Homo sapiens: one gene and its partners. The protein of the gene in region 4 interacts with the protein of the main gene of each other region in a pairwise test. Each region holds a gene or a part of one and is shown on either strand. Other genes may lie near its edges.

Region 1 (3,500 bases), on a different chromosome or scaffold from region 4:
TGATGTCAATAGGAATGCCTATAGTATTTCACTGTTAAGAATAATTTGGCTGGTGATGCATGATGGCTCAAGCCTGTAATCCCAGCACTTTGTGAGGCTAAGGCAGGCAGATCGGTTGAGTCCAGGAGTTTGAGACCAGCTTGGGCAACAAAGTGAGACCTTGTCTCTCCAAAAAAAAAAATACTAGCCTGGTATGGTGGTGCATGCCTGTGGTCCTGTCGTCCCAGCTACATAAGAGGTTACAGCAAAAGGATCACTTGAGCCCAGGACTTGAGGCTGCAGTGACCCATGTTCGTACCAGTGCACTCCGGCCTGGGTGACAGGCGACCAAGCAAGACTCCATCTCAAAAAAAAAAGAATAATTTGGCTCTTGGTTTATGGTGTCCTAAAAGTCTTTTTAATTGTGGAAAATAAAATGTACAAAAAAGTGCATAAAACTTCAACATCCATGTTAACAAATTATTATAAAGTACATATGAATGTCTCGCACTAAGTGTGGTGCTTGCTGAGGTTTTTGATAGACAATCTTTATCAGATAAAGGCAGTTCTCTTAGTTTGCTAAGAGTTTTTAAAAAATCATGAATGAGCGTTGATTCCTATCACTACTTCTCTCTGCACCTAAGATGATCACAAGATTTTTCTCCTTGACTCTGTTAATATGGCATATTACCCTTATTGATTTTCTTTTTTCCTTTTTTTTTTTGAGTCAGTCTTGCTCTGTCTCCAGGCTGGAGTGCAGTGGTGTGATCTTGGCTCACTGCAACCTCCGCCTCCTGGGTTTAAGCGATTCTCCTGCCTCAGCCTCCCGAGCAGCTGGGACTACAGGCGCCCGCCACCACGCCCAGCTAATTTTTTGAATTTTTAGTAGAGACGGGGTTTCACCATGTTGGCCAGGATTGTCTCGATCTCTTGGCCTCGTGATCTGCCTGACTCGGACTCCCAAAGTGCTGGGATTGCAGGTGTAAACCACCGTGCCTGGCCTCCTTATTGATTTTCCTTTTTTTTTTTGAGACGGAGTCTTGCTCTGTCGCCCAGGCTGGAGTGCAGTGGCGCGATCTCGGCTCACTGCAAGCTCCGCCCCCCCGGGTTCACGTCATTCTCCTGCCTCAGCCTCCGAGTAGCTGGGACTACAGGCGCCCGCCACCACGCCTGGCTAATTTTTTGTATTTTTAGTAGAGACAGGGTTTCACCGTGTTAGCCAGGATGGTCTCGATCTCCTCACCTCCTGATCCGCCCGCCTTGGCCTCCCAAAATGCTGGGATTACCGGTGTAAGCCACCGCGTCCAGCCTCCTTATTGATTTTTTAATGTTAAAAACCATTTTGGGTGTTTGGCATAAACCCAACTTGGTGATAATGTTTTATCCTGTTTATGTATCACCAGATTCCGTATGCTGATCTTTTGTTTCAGGTTTTTGCATTTATGTTAATGAGTGATATTTGCCTACAATACTTTCTTGCTTTGCCCTTGTCAGGTTTTGGCATCAAGATTATGTTAATCTCGTGAAATGGATTTGGGATTTCATCTTCTTTTTCTATGCTCTGGAAAATTATCTATAAAATAGACATTATTTCTTCTTTACGTGTTTGGTAAATATTTCCATTGAAGCTGTATGGGTCTGGAGTTTTATTCTGGCGGAAGTTTTAAACAAGGGATTTGATTTATTTAAATATAATAGCTGTGGAATGATTCAGGTTTTCTATTTATTTTGTGCTGATTTTAGCATATTGTATTTTTTTTCTTTTCTTTCTTTTTCTTTTTTCTTTTTTTTTTTTTTGAGATGGAGTCTTGTTCTGTTGTTCAGCCTGGAGTGCAGTGATGTGATCTCGGCTCACTGAAACTTCCACCTCCTGGGTTCAAGCGATTCTCCTGTCTCAGTCTCCCAAGTGGCTGGGGCTACAGGTGTGTGCCACCACGCCAGGCTAATTTTTGTATTTTTAGTAGAGATGGGGTTTCACCATGTTGGCCAGGCTGGTCTTGAACTCCTGACTTCAGGTGATCCACCTGCCTCGGCCTCTCACAGTGCCTGGCCTGTATAATTTTTTTCTAGGAATTTGTTTATTCCATCTCAAATTGTAAATTCATTGGCATAACATTGTTTAAATATCCTTTTATTATTATATCCTTTTATCTTATTCATGGTTTATTAACTTTTTAATATGTGCAGGATATACAGTCATATACCACTTTTAATTTTTTTTTTTTTTTCTGAGATGGAGTCTCACTCTGTTGCTCGGGCTGGAATGCAGTGGCACGATCTTGGCTCACTGCAACCTCCGCCTCCCAGGTTCAGACGATTCTCCCACCTCAGCCTCCCAAGTAGCTGGGATTACAGGTGCACTCCACCACACCTGGTTAATTTTTGTATTTTTAGTAGAGACAAGATTTCACCATGTTGCCTAGGCTGGTCTCAAACTCCTGACTTCAGATGATCCACCCAATGTGGCCTCCCAAAGTGCTGGAATTACAAGTGTGAATACTGTGCCTGACCCTCTTTTGGTTTTAATTTGCATTTTTCTGGTGATCAGAGATGTTGAGCATTTAAAAATAGATCTGTTGCCCATTTATAGCTCCTCTTTTGAGAAATATCTGGTCAGATTCCTTGCCCAGTTTTTAATTAGATTATTTGTTTTCTTGTTACTGATTTGTTTGAGTTCCTTATGTATTTTGGATATCAGCTCTTTGTCAGATTTATGGTTTGCAAATATTTTCTCTCACTCTGTAGGTTGTCGCTTCATTCTCTTGGTTGTTTCCTTTGCTGTGCAGAAGCTCTTTGGTTTTGTGAGTCCCATTTGTCTAGTTTTGCTTTTGTTGCCTGTGCTTTTGGCGTCCTCTCCAAGACATCATCGCCAAGACCAATGTTGTGGAGCTTTTCCATTAGGTTTTCTTCTGAGAGATTTAAGTTTCAGGTCTTACATTTACATCTTCTCTATTGTGAGTTGATTTTTGTATATGTTGTGAGATAAAGGTCCGGCTTCATTCTTCTGGACGTGGATGTCGAGTTTTCCCAGCACTGTTTATTGAAGAGACTGTCCTTTCCCCATTGTGTGTTCTTGTCACAGGGCCCGCTTCTTTCCCCAGGACCCGGGCTGGAGTGGAAGGAGGGCTGTGCCTTCGCATGGATACCCTGCTCTCCAATCCAGGCTGCCGTGGTCCTCACCCCTTCCCAGGGTCTCTCTGACACTGAGGCCCTCTGTCCGCGCCGTTGGTTGTTGTGCTTGAACTGCTGGTTTTTGTTTTGTTTTGTTTTGTTTTTGAGATGGAGTTTTGCTCTTGTTGCCCAGGCTGGAGTGCTATGGCGCCATCTTGGCTCATTGCAACCTCTGCCTCCCGGGTTCAAGCGATTCTCTTGCCTCAGCCTCCCGAGTAGCTGGGATTACAGGCATGTGCCATCATGCCAGGCTAATTTTTCTATGTTTAGTAGAGATGGCGTTTCTCCATGTTGGTCAGGCTGATCTCGAACTCCCAACCTCATGTTGGGAATTTATATATATATGTTCT
Region 2 (3,500 bases), on a different chromosome or scaffold from region 4:
AATTCATACTGAATTCATTCAGTGTTAGCTATCCAAATAGCTGCAATGAAAGGCCAGTCAATATGAAACATGAAACTACATTAGCATATTTCAAAGACAGTGTATGAGTTATAAATGAATTTTTTAAAAAATTTCATGATGCTAGAAGATACAAAAGTATTACTGAGTGAAATAGATTGTAAAGTTTTCTACTTTTCCTTCTTTCTGAAAGATAAAATTTGTTGAAAGTTATCTATTTGTTGAAATGATTTTTTTAACATTTACTGACAGATATAAATAAAGGTAATATTTATGATTCCCATTTAGAGTAGGTAAAGGAAACAAATGACTGATACCTGATATTGAACCTTTCTTTTTGCTTTTCTATGTATTTATTTACTTATTTATTTTGAGACAGGGTTTAACTCTGTCACTCAGGCTGCAGTGAAATGGCATGATTACAGCTTACTGCAGCCTTGAACTCCTGGGCTCAAGCCATCTTCCTTCCTCAGCCTGCCGCGTAGCTGCATGCACCACCTCACCTGGCTAATTTAAATTTTTTATTTTTGTAGAGGGGTGTCTTGCTATGTTGCCCAGGCTAGTCTCAAACTCCTGGGCTCAAGCAATCCTCCTGCCTCAGACTCCCAAAGTGCTGGGATTATAGGCATAAGCCACTATACCTGGCCAATATTGAACTTCTGATACCCCCTTTTAAAAAATTTCAGTTCTAATTTAAATACATAAATAGAGGCTTCTGAAAAAAAATAATGCCTAGTTTCTGCTGTTCTTCATGTCTGTCTAACAGTCTTTCGATTTGTAGATAGTATTTGCGTCTGTGGATGCACTGTGTGACTGCTTTTCAGCATTCTTTCCTGCATAATAAATTTAACAGTGAATATTTAATTTACTCATAAGAAAACATTTCTTTTAAAAAATGACAAAATTAAAATAGAAGAAAGATACCTAATTTTTTTTGAGGTTTCACAGGTGTGAATAAATAACATAGTATCTTTGTTTTCTCAAGACACCATTTTGATTTCTTCCTAAAAATTTCAGCCTCTTAAGAAATTGTTTTATCTTAAAACCTTTTGAGATAAAACAGATTGTGGGCTTTTTAATGTAAATAATTATTTACATGCTTTAAGTATAAATTTAGGTTTCATATATAACTTTGAGAAGTGATATACAAATTTATCAATGCTATTACATTTGCTGCTATTTTAAATATATGTTTCATGTGGACATCCTTTTCTTGCACAGGACACTCTAAATGTGTAGAGATCATCTAGCACCAATTAAATGGCAAATCCCAAGGGCGCCTAAAAGTGTAGGGACTTCTATTCCCATTACATAAAGGTAAATTGTAAATATCCTCTCCTAAAAGTAAAAGTCTCTGATTTAGAAACAGTCATTAACCACAATGGGCACAATCATTTATATAAGAAAGGGACAACTGGGACGATGTAGCTCAAAGTTATGGTTTAAAATATTGGGGTCAATGGAAGTATGCAGCTCTTCTATAATTAAGGATTTTTTTTCATATTCCACATTCAGCATCTGTGAAATAGAGATCATTAAAAGAATGCTTTATTTAGAGTCTCTATTGGCAAAGGAAAAAAGTAAAAATTCCCACAGAAAGCATTATTATTTAAAATGGGAAATCATGATTTGTCATTCATTCTGACCTGTATCTGTTGAGTAAATGCATTTTCACCTACTTACACCCAAAACAAAAAGCTGAACAGAAAACTGATTACATGATCCATACGCCTATCTAATAAAATAGAGATGTGCACTTTTTGACAAGCTTATTCATAATACGTCCTGATAAAAAATTCCATTTGCCACTCTCAGTAGGAAAAGTAAGCATTTAAAGGAAACCTTTTATTTCATGACTGTCATCCAAATAACAATTACAAGCAAAATAGTGATAAAACGTTTTTTAAAGAGCAGCTTAGAACTTGTTATGGAAGTTTGCAATCCAGTTTTTGCCTTGTTATTTGATTTGAAAAAAATAATCCTGATAATCTTTTTTGAAGTTCACTGTTTCTAGGATGAGTTATACAGAACAAAGACTAACTGATATTCCCAGGAGTTTAGTTTATGGTGATGCTCTATTCTACTGAGAATGATTCTCCAATGGCCACATCTTACTTCTTCCCAGGCTGTGGGAATTCATTAATCTCTAGAGAATAGACTTAAATTAAACCATTGTCTCAACCAGCAGGTTTATGCAACCATCCTGAAATGTTTTAATTATTGTTTTCTTTTCCTTTTTAATTAAGAGACCAGAGGTCAAGCAAGCCCATTGAGAGCTGATCACAGCCTCTGTAGAAATTTAAAGAAAACTCTAATGATTGGATTTGCTGTTTTCTCTTTTGTTTTGCAGAACCAGAAGAGTGTGTTAATTGCACAGATGAATGCCGAGTGCTTGGTCATTCTGACAGGTGCTGGATGCCACAGTTCCCTGCAGCCAATCAGGCTGAAAATGCAGATTACCGCACAAATCTCTTTGTACCTACAGTTGAAGCTAATGTTGAGACTGAGACTTACGAAACTGTGAATCCCACTGGGAAAAAGACTTTTTGTACATTTGGAAAAGACAAGCGAGAGCACACTATTCTCATTGCCAACGTTAAACCTTATTTAAAAGCCAAACGTGCCCTGAGCCCTCTCCTCCAAGAGGTCCCCTCAGCATCAAGCAGCCCAACCAAGGCGTGCATCGAGCCTTGCACCTCAACAAAAGGCTCCCTGGATGGCTGTGAAGCAAAACCAGGAGCCCTGGCTGAAGCAAGCAGTCAGTACTTGCCCACTGACAGTCAATATCTGTCACCTAGTAAGCAACCAAGAGACCCTCCCTTCATGGCTTCCGATCAGATGGCAAGGGTCTTTGCAGATGTGCATTCCAGAGCCAGCCGGGATTCCAGTGAGATGGGTGCTGTTCTTGAGCAGCTTGACCACCCCAACAGGGATCTGGGCAGAGAGTCTGTGGATGCAGAGGAAGTTGTGAGAGAAATTGATAAGCTTTTGCAAGACTGCCGGGGAAACGACCCTGTGGCTGTGAGAAAGTGAAAAAAGAAAAAAAAAAAGGCATTGGCATTTTCTTGTCTCTTCTGTTGATTTAAAAATGATCCCTCCTGGTGATAACCCATTTTACAGGGATGAAGAAAGACCAATGCTGCTTTAAGGCTTTTAGTGAACATCTGAAGTGCCCACAAGTATGTTCTTTCCACTGCTGATTTCTTTTTCAGAGATAACAATGGTTTCGTTTTGACCAAACTTGTATTAGGACAGAATTAATGATGCTTAAAGAGAAAAGAAAAAAAGAGAGAAGAAAAAGGAGAGATGAAAAAGGAGGATGAGGAGAAGAATTACCTTTTGACAATCTGTTAGGAAGGTATGCAGTGTGAGAACTGAAGTATTTCTGATCACTCTCAGACTGTCCTCCGTGATTTATGCTGACTTAACTGTTTACCTATAAACCCCATACAAAGCAGGGTCATAATTTGTGATCTGTGGTG
Region 3 (4,196 bases), on a different chromosome or scaffold from region 4:
TTATAAAACTGGCCAAGGTGGGAGGATCACTTGAGCCCAGGAAATTGAGACCAGCATGGGCAACACAGTGAGACCACTATCTAAAAAATAAATAAATAATAAATAAACCAATTACCCAGGTGTGGTGTCTGCACCTGTAGTAGCAGGGACTGGGGAGGCTACATCGGGAGGATTGTTTGAGCCCAGGAGATGGAGGCTTCAGTGAGGTATGGTCATGCCACTGCCCTCCAGCCTGAGCAACAGAGTGACACTCTGTCTGGAAAAAAAAATAAATAAAAACGGCTTTATAAATAAAGATATGAAAATAATTTATTTCTTCCACAAAAGGTCTTCCTGAGACACATCCTCCAGTAAGGGACTGTCTGTTCCCAACGTTTCTGAATGCATGAGATTGGACAAAGAGAGACGAAAGCTCTCAAGTCCCTTTTTCTACTACAAACGCCATGGGGATGCGGGTCTGGGAACAGCGGAAAACCCTACCCTGCCCTGAAAAGTCCCTGGCTCAATGTGCATGTCCCTTTCTATGAAAGTTCCTTGCTGCCTATGCGCCTTGCTCTCTAACTTCTGTCCCTCCACAACTGTGAAAGGAGACGTCGTGACTTCCTTCTTTCGTGCTGACTATGACTTAGCCAGTAGGTCTGCAGATCAGTCCTCCCAGAAAGTGAAGTGTGAGTGAGTGTGAGGGGGAGCGTGGGGGGCTTCCTGTGGGTTGTGCCACTTGGTCCATGGCCTCTGAGGTCGTCATCTTTCTACTAAAACTCAGCGATACTGCCATGGCCTTGCTGTTGTGGGGTCCCGGGCATGGGACGAAGGAGGGCCATAGCGGGGAGGAGGGTCAGGTGAGCATGGAGTGAGTTTTTTTTTTTTTTTCACGGAGTCTTGCTCTGTCACCAGGCTGGAGTGCAGTGGCGCAATCTCGGCTCACTGTAACCTCCGCCTCCCGGGTTCAAGTGATTCTCCTGCCTCAGCCTCCCGAGTAGCTGGGAGTACAGGCGCGCACAACCACACCCAGCTAATTTTTGTATTTTTCAGTAGAGACGGGTTTTAACCATGTTGGCGAGGATGGTCTCGATCTCTTGGCCACATGATCCACCCGCCTCCGCCCCCCAAAGTGCTGGGATTACAGGCGTGAGCCACCGCGCCCGGTCATGGAGTGAGTTTTGAAGGCTGACTTTATTTGAGGTATTTGAGTCCTGGTGGGGGGGAACCCACACACAGAGAGGAGGGATTCCAAAGTCGTTAATGGGGACCTGGGAAGGAGCATAGGACAGGGCAAGGCGGGATAAGGAGGGGCACCACAGCCCTTAAGGCACGAGGGAACCTCACTGCGCATGCTCCTTTGGTGCCCACCTCAGTGCGCATGTTCACTGGGCGTCTTCCCATCGGCCCCTTCGCCAGTGTGGGGAACGCGGCGGAGCTGTGAGCCGGCGACTCGGGTCCCTGAGGTCTGGATTCTTTCTCCGCTACTGAGACACGGCGGGTAGGTCCACAGGCAGATCCAACTGGGAGTTGAAGTGTGAGTGAGAGTGAAGAGGAACCAGCAGGCTTCCGGAGGGTTGTGTGGTCAGTGACTCAGAGTGAGAAGGCCCTCGAAGTCGTCGTCCCTCTCATGCGGTGCCACGCCCATGGACCTTCTTGTCTCGTCACGGCCATAACTAGGGAGGAAGGAGGGCCGAGGAGTGGAGGGGCTCAGGCGAAGCTGGGGTGCTGTTGGGGGTATCCGAGTCCCAGAAGCACCTGGAACCCCGACAGAAGATTCTGGACTCCCCAGACGGGACCAGGAGAGGGACGGCATGAGCGGTATGGAAGGGTCCTGGAGACGGGGCATGCTGCGGGCTAGTGACCGCAGCCCCGAGGTCTGTAGAGTGCCTGGCATAGGGGTCCTGTGAGGAGTGCCCACTGCTGTGTAGCAAATTCTCAACTCCACTGTGGAGATTCCAATGGGCGGGGCCCTGAGTTCCTAAAAATGTGACTTTGGGGTGGGGGGGAAGTGGGCCTAGCAAATCATTATGTGACAAAATTGGTGGTCACTGCAGTTTCAGTTCTGTAGCTGTAATTTCCTACTTGTCTCCCTGATGGAGTGTCCAGTTGTGAAACCAACCTCATGGGAAATGCCCTGTGTTTTTTGCCAGGAGCCTTAAGACATCGCTCAGCTAGCTAGACCTACTTAAGTGGCTTTGCAAGCATTCGATTCAAAAGGTGCATACACTTATACTTGCCCGGGGACTTTCAGAGTATTTCTAAATTAAAAAAAAAAAAAATGTCCAAGTTAACATTTGACCATGAAAGCGGTCAAATCTAGTTGTCCTGTCAAGTGCATTTTCCCAATCGCAGTATTCTGCTTGCAGAGTGAAGTATGTGTTGATGAGGACGATCAACATATAGGCCTATGCCAAGAAGTTCACAACCTCCTGAGCTCATTGTGCCTCTGCTTGTGAATGTCTTAACATTCGATGTTTTCTCTTAGCAGAAAGTTATTTTTCTGATAGTGTTGATGGACTAGTATGGATACACTGATAATGGTCTCCCATGCTGATAAAAAATGATCATGGCATCCCATGAAGGAAAGATTAGTCCAGAGGGTTATATTTGGGTTTTGTGTGGGTGGATGATCGTGTGTGCCCAGATTTTGTCCATAACTTCCTCCTCATGCTTATTCAGAACAGATTACACACATTCATCCCAACATTGATTAAAACGGCTTCCAAAGTCCCTGAGGATATCTGTCTTTGAGTAACCTCTCTGAGGGAAGAATAGTGTTATGAAGATTAGGTATACGGGGTAGTGTTGGAGAAATGTCTCTAGACATACTTATAATAAGACATACCTGTGTATTCTGTATATTTATATTATTGACATGTATTAATAACAAAACTTTTTATCTAGACACACACAAACACAGAACCACACAGCCAGTCCCAGGAGCCCAGTAATGGAGAGCCCCAAAAAGAAGAACCAGCAGCTGAAAGTCGGGATCCTACACCTGGGCAGCAGACAGAAGAAGATCAGGATACAGCTGAGATCCCAGGTGCTGGGAAGGGAAAGTATGTCTATGGGGCGGGAGAAGGTCTATGTGTGCATTGTGGCCTATGCCATGAGCAGTAACAGGAGCAAAGAGAACATTAGGAAAAGATACCAAACATTTGCTCAAAGTTGGCTGGAAAAGGGAGAGTATAGTTTGCAGCTTCATGCTGTCCCTGGATATAATGAATCTTCTCTTGTTCTTCGAGATGGATTTTGTATGCTTGAAAATACAGTCCTTACTAAATCACTTGAAACCATTTAATTTGGTGTATAGAAATGTACATTTTTTTATTATGTGGCAGAGGCTCATCTGTCACGCAGTGTGGATTGTTGTGGCATGATCTTGGCTCACTGCCACCTCCAGCTCTTGGGTTCAAGCGACCTCGGCCTCCCAAAGTGCTGAGATTACAGGCATGAACCACTACGCCTGGCTCAGGCTTTATTTCGTAACGCGAAGGAAGAGAATATTATCATTTCCTTATTTATATTTCATGTTGGAATGCTTAAATCGATAACCTTTGTATTTTGAAGTGCGCGACATGGAAGGTGATCTGCAAGAGCTGCATCAGTCAAACACCGGGGATAAATCTGGATTTGGGTTCCGGCGTCAAGGTGAAGATAATACCTAAAGAGGAACACTGTAAAATGCCAGAAGCAGGTATGTTATCCAGCAAGATGCAAAGTTATGTGCTTTCTCATTTACACAGTATTATACTTTTGATAATAGAGGGATAACATTAGTGCTACTTTAAAAACACAGTGCAAATGCAAATGTTCTTTGAAACGTCGTTCAGACCCAAATGCCAGATTGCAAGACTTAAACACTATCAGATACAGAAACAAATTGGGTCAAAGCCATATTGAATCATCAAACGTGACAGCATTTTCTTAGTTTGGTGTATAACCAACAGCTAACAATTTTCAGATTCTTTTCTAATTTCTGCTTTTAACAAACACATAATGCATTTGTAATACCAGTTTGTGTGAAGTATGCTGAGCCCTGAAGCAGATTCTAGTACCAGCTCTACCATAATTTGTGAGAGTCTGGATGAATCGTATAAATTCCACAGGCATCCTTGCTCTTAGTGAAAAGAGTGGATGCACATCAGATAGATTAAAATCCATTTCGTTGCTAATTTCCACATGCTCTGGTTCTGTTGGATAGAAGACCA
Region 4 (3,500 bases):
GAAGATTAGTGGTGGTATCAATGAATATAATTTCTGATATTTCACCATGAAATGTGTCAGCATTTGGAAGCTACGCATAACTCAGCAAACAAATGGTTCCTAGTTACCGATGTATGATTTTACAAAACTGTAATGGGTAATCCATCAAAGTACAAAATACCAACAGATTTTAAGGGAACACTGAAAACTTCATTGATGTGGTTTCAGATTTCATATTGCAACTAACCTTTGAGAAACAACTGTGTTTTTATGTAGTATCAAAGAATAACACCTATAGTTATCTGAAAATGCTATTCAACTACTTACCTCTTTTCAACTGTATATCTGTGAGAGTCCAGATTTTCTTAATATTTTTGGACCAAAACAACATATTGCAACAAATTGAATGCTGAGATAGATGTGACAATCCAGGTGTCTTCTACTAACCAGATGTTAGAGGTTTGCAAAAATATACGATGCCACTCTTCATACAAAATATCTTTGTTTTGGAAAATAATAAGTTTTTAAAATAAAAATATGTCATTTAATATGTGATGTATTTATTTTTTAAATGAACTAATATATTTAGATTTTTATCAGTTTTTATTTCTAATATAGTAAACATTGATAGATGACCCACATTAAGAAAAACAAAAAACAAAAACTCTTAAATTTTAAGAGTGTAAATGATCCTAAGACCAAAAAGTTTGTGAACTGCTGGTCTAGAGTTTATTGGCTTGGGTTTCTACATGCAATGGCTTTACTTCAGCAGGTATTCTTTTTATTTCCTTTATAGTGTGAGGCCTGATAACTAATATCCTAGTTGTTTAACTCAGTGGCCCAATCTCACTCATCTGTTGATGTCGCCTCCAAAGTATTTGATGTTCTTGGCCCTTTTTAAATTGAAACTCTACTTCCTTCATGTCTCTAAGACTCCTTTTTCATAGATTTCTGTGTATATCTCTGAAACCCATTTCTGCCTCCCCAAACTTGGCATCTGTATATTCTTTACTTTGTATGTGGCATAAACTCCTTTCTGGAACCTCAGCTAGAAACTGTCATTGTCTCAGCTTTGATTCTAATTTGTAGTCCTCCTTCATGTCCTTTCTCTGGATTGTCTCTTAAATCTATCCTTTTTCCTTTTATGTAGTTACAGTTCAGAAGCCCATATCACTTCTGTCATGAACTATTGGACAAATTGGTCTCTCCTTTGGAATGCTACTAACATGATCTTCATTATCTTTTTTGAAACCTATGTGATTATGTTGGTCCCTGTATATTTAAAAAAAAAATTGAGTCCTATTAGTGGCTGCTGAATAAAGGCTGAGATCCTTAGGATAGTGTTCAAGGCCATAATAATAATCTATCCCTAAACTACCTTCCTAGCTTCATTTCCTGCTGCTTATCCCAATCCTGTGCTGTGTCAGCACTGAATTATTTTTATCATATGGTACTTTTTCTTTCTCTTTCTTTCTTTCTTCTCTTTCTTCTCTTTCTTCTCTTTCTTTTCTTTCTTGAAGGAGTCTTGCTCTGTCGCCAGGCTGGAGTGCAGTAGCGCGATCTTGGCTCACTGCAATCTCCGCCTCCCAGATTTGAGCGATTCTCCTGCCTCAGCCTCCTGAGTAGCTGGGATTACAGACGTGTGCCACCATACCTAGCTAATTTTTTTATTTTTAGTAGAGACAGGGTTTCACCATGTTGGCCAGGATGGTCTCCATCTCCTGACCTCGTGATCCGCCTGCCTCAGCCTCCCAAAATGCTGTGATTGCAGGCGTAAGCCACCATATGGTACTTTTCAAAGAAGCCCTCTAGGATTACCATCCCTCCACCCCTTGGTATCATATTGATTCTATGTATGTAGAGTCAGTCATGCACTCCATAATGACATTTTTGGTGAGTGGGGGACCACATATACAGTCCCATAAAATGATACTATATTTTTACTCTACTTTTTCTATGTTTAGATACAAATACTTACCATGGTGTTACAATTACCTGCAACATTCAGTATAGTAACATCCTGTACACCTGTAGCTTCAGAGCAATAGGCTCTACCATATAGCCTAGGTATGTAGTAGGCTGTACCATCTAGGTTTGTATAAATACATTCTATGATGTTCTGACAATGAAATCACCTAACGATGCATTTTTCAGAACATATCCGTCATTAAATGATGCATGGCTGTATGTATATGTAATTATTCCTGGAGAATAAATATATTGTAGTATAATTGTCTAGACACTTATCTGCCCTACAGGGCAGAGACCGTCTTATTCACTTTGGTATTCCCAGAAGCTAATAAAATACCTGAAGTATTGTAGATATTTAAATGTTTTTTTTTTTTTTTAATTTATTTTTTTATTGATAATTCTTGGGTGTTTCTCACAGAGGGGGATTTGGCAGGGTCATGGGACAATAGTGGAGGGAAGGTCAGCAGATAAACAAGTGAACAAAGGTCTCTGGTTTTCCTAGGCAGAGGACCCTGCGGCCTTCCGCAGTGTTTGTGTCCCTGATTACTTGAGATTAGGGATTGGTGATGACTCTTAACGAGCATGCTGCCTTCAAGCATCTGTTTAACAAAGCACATCTTGCACCGCCCTTAATCCATTTAACCCTGAGTGGACACAGCACATGTTTCAGAGAGCACAGGGTTGGGGGTAAGGTCACAGATCAACAGGATCCCAAGGCAGAGGAATTTTTCTTAGTGCAGAACAAAATGAAAAGTCTCCCATGTCTACTTCTTTCTACACAGACACGGCAACCATCCGATTTCTCAATCTTTTCCCCACCTTTCCCGCCTTTCTATTCCACAAAGCCGCCATTGTCATCATGGCCCGTTCTCAATGAGCTGTTGGGCACACCTCCCAGACGGGGTGGTGGCCGGGCAGAGGGGCTCCTCACTTCCCAGTAGGGGTGGCCGGGCAGAGGCGCCCCTCACCTCCCGGACGGGGCGGCTGGCCGGGCGGGGGGCTGACCCCCCAACCTCCCTCCCGGACGGGGCGGCTGGCCGGGCAGAGGGGCTCCTCACTTCCCAGTAGGGGCGGCCGGGCAGAGGCGCCCCTCACCTCCCGGACGGGGCGGCTGGCCGGGCAGGGGGGCTGACCCCCCCCCCACCTCCCTCCCGGACGGGGCGGCTGGCCGGGCGGGGGGCTGACACCCCCACCTCCCTCCCTGACGGGGCGGCTGGCCGGGCAGAGGGGCTCCTCACTTCCCAGTAGGGGCGGCCGGGCAGAGGCACCCCTCACCTCCCGGACGGGGCGGCTGGCCAGGCGGGGGGGCTGACCCCCCCCCCCCACCTCCCTCCCGGACGGGGCGGCTGGCCAGGCGGGGGGCTGACCCCCCCACCTCCCTCCCGGACGGGGCGGCTGGCCGGGCAGAGAGGCTCCTCACTTCCCAGTAGGGGCGGCCGGGCAGAGGCGCCCCTCACCTCCCGGATGGGGTGGCTGGCCGGGCAGGGGGGCTGACCCCCCCCCACCTCCCTCCCGGACGGGGCGGCTGGCGCGGGCGGGGGGCCGACACC

What was found. Proteins that work in one complex are often made in the same cells at the same time.
Region 1: the proteins of YAF2 (region 4) and CD300LF interact in binary tests that used the Homo sapiens proteins (3 or more experiments, as listed by UniProt).
Region 2: the proteins of YAF2 (region 4) and PCDH17 interact in binary tests that used the Homo sapiens proteins (3 or more experiments, as listed by UniProt).
Region 3: the proteins of YAF2 (region 4) and XAGE1B interact in binary tests that used the Homo sapiens proteins (3 or more experiments, as listed by UniProt).

The regions. Positions count from the first base shown.
Region 1 is NC_000017.11:74,706,424-74,709,923, reverse strand, and holds part of CD300LF (CMRF35-like molecule 1 isoform 1 precursor), read left to right. Parts: intron 1-3,500. UniProt on the Homo sapiens protein: Acts as an inhibitory receptor for myeloid cells and mast cells.
Region 2 is NC_000013.11:57,722,244-57,725,743, forward strand, and holds part of PCDH17 (protocadherin-17 precursor), read left to right. Parts: intron 1-2,368; coding exon 2,369-3,051; 3' UTR 3,052-3,500. UniProt on the Homo sapiens protein: Potential calcium-dependent cell-adhesion protein.
Region 3 is NC_000023.11:52,514,264-52,518,459, reverse strand, and holds the start of XAGE1B (X antigen family member 1), read left to right. Parts: upstream 1-1,396; 5' UTR 1,397-1,480; exon of another isoform or gene 1,481-1,609; coding exon of another isoform or gene 1,610-1,800; intron 1,801-2,886; coding exon of another isoform or gene 2,887-2,932; coding exon 2,933-3,028; coding exon of another isoform or gene 3,029-3,044; intron 3,045-3,555; coding exon 3,556-3,682; intron 3,683-4,196.
Region 4 is NC_000012.12:42,228,249-42,231,748, reverse strand, and holds part of YAF2 (YY1-associated factor 2), read left to right. Parts: exon of another isoform or gene 1-527; intron 528-3,500. UniProt on the Homo sapiens protein: Binds to MYC and inhibits MYC-mediated transactivation. Also binds to MYCN and enhances MYCN-dependent transcriptional activation. Increases calpain 2-mediated proteolysis of YY1 in vitro.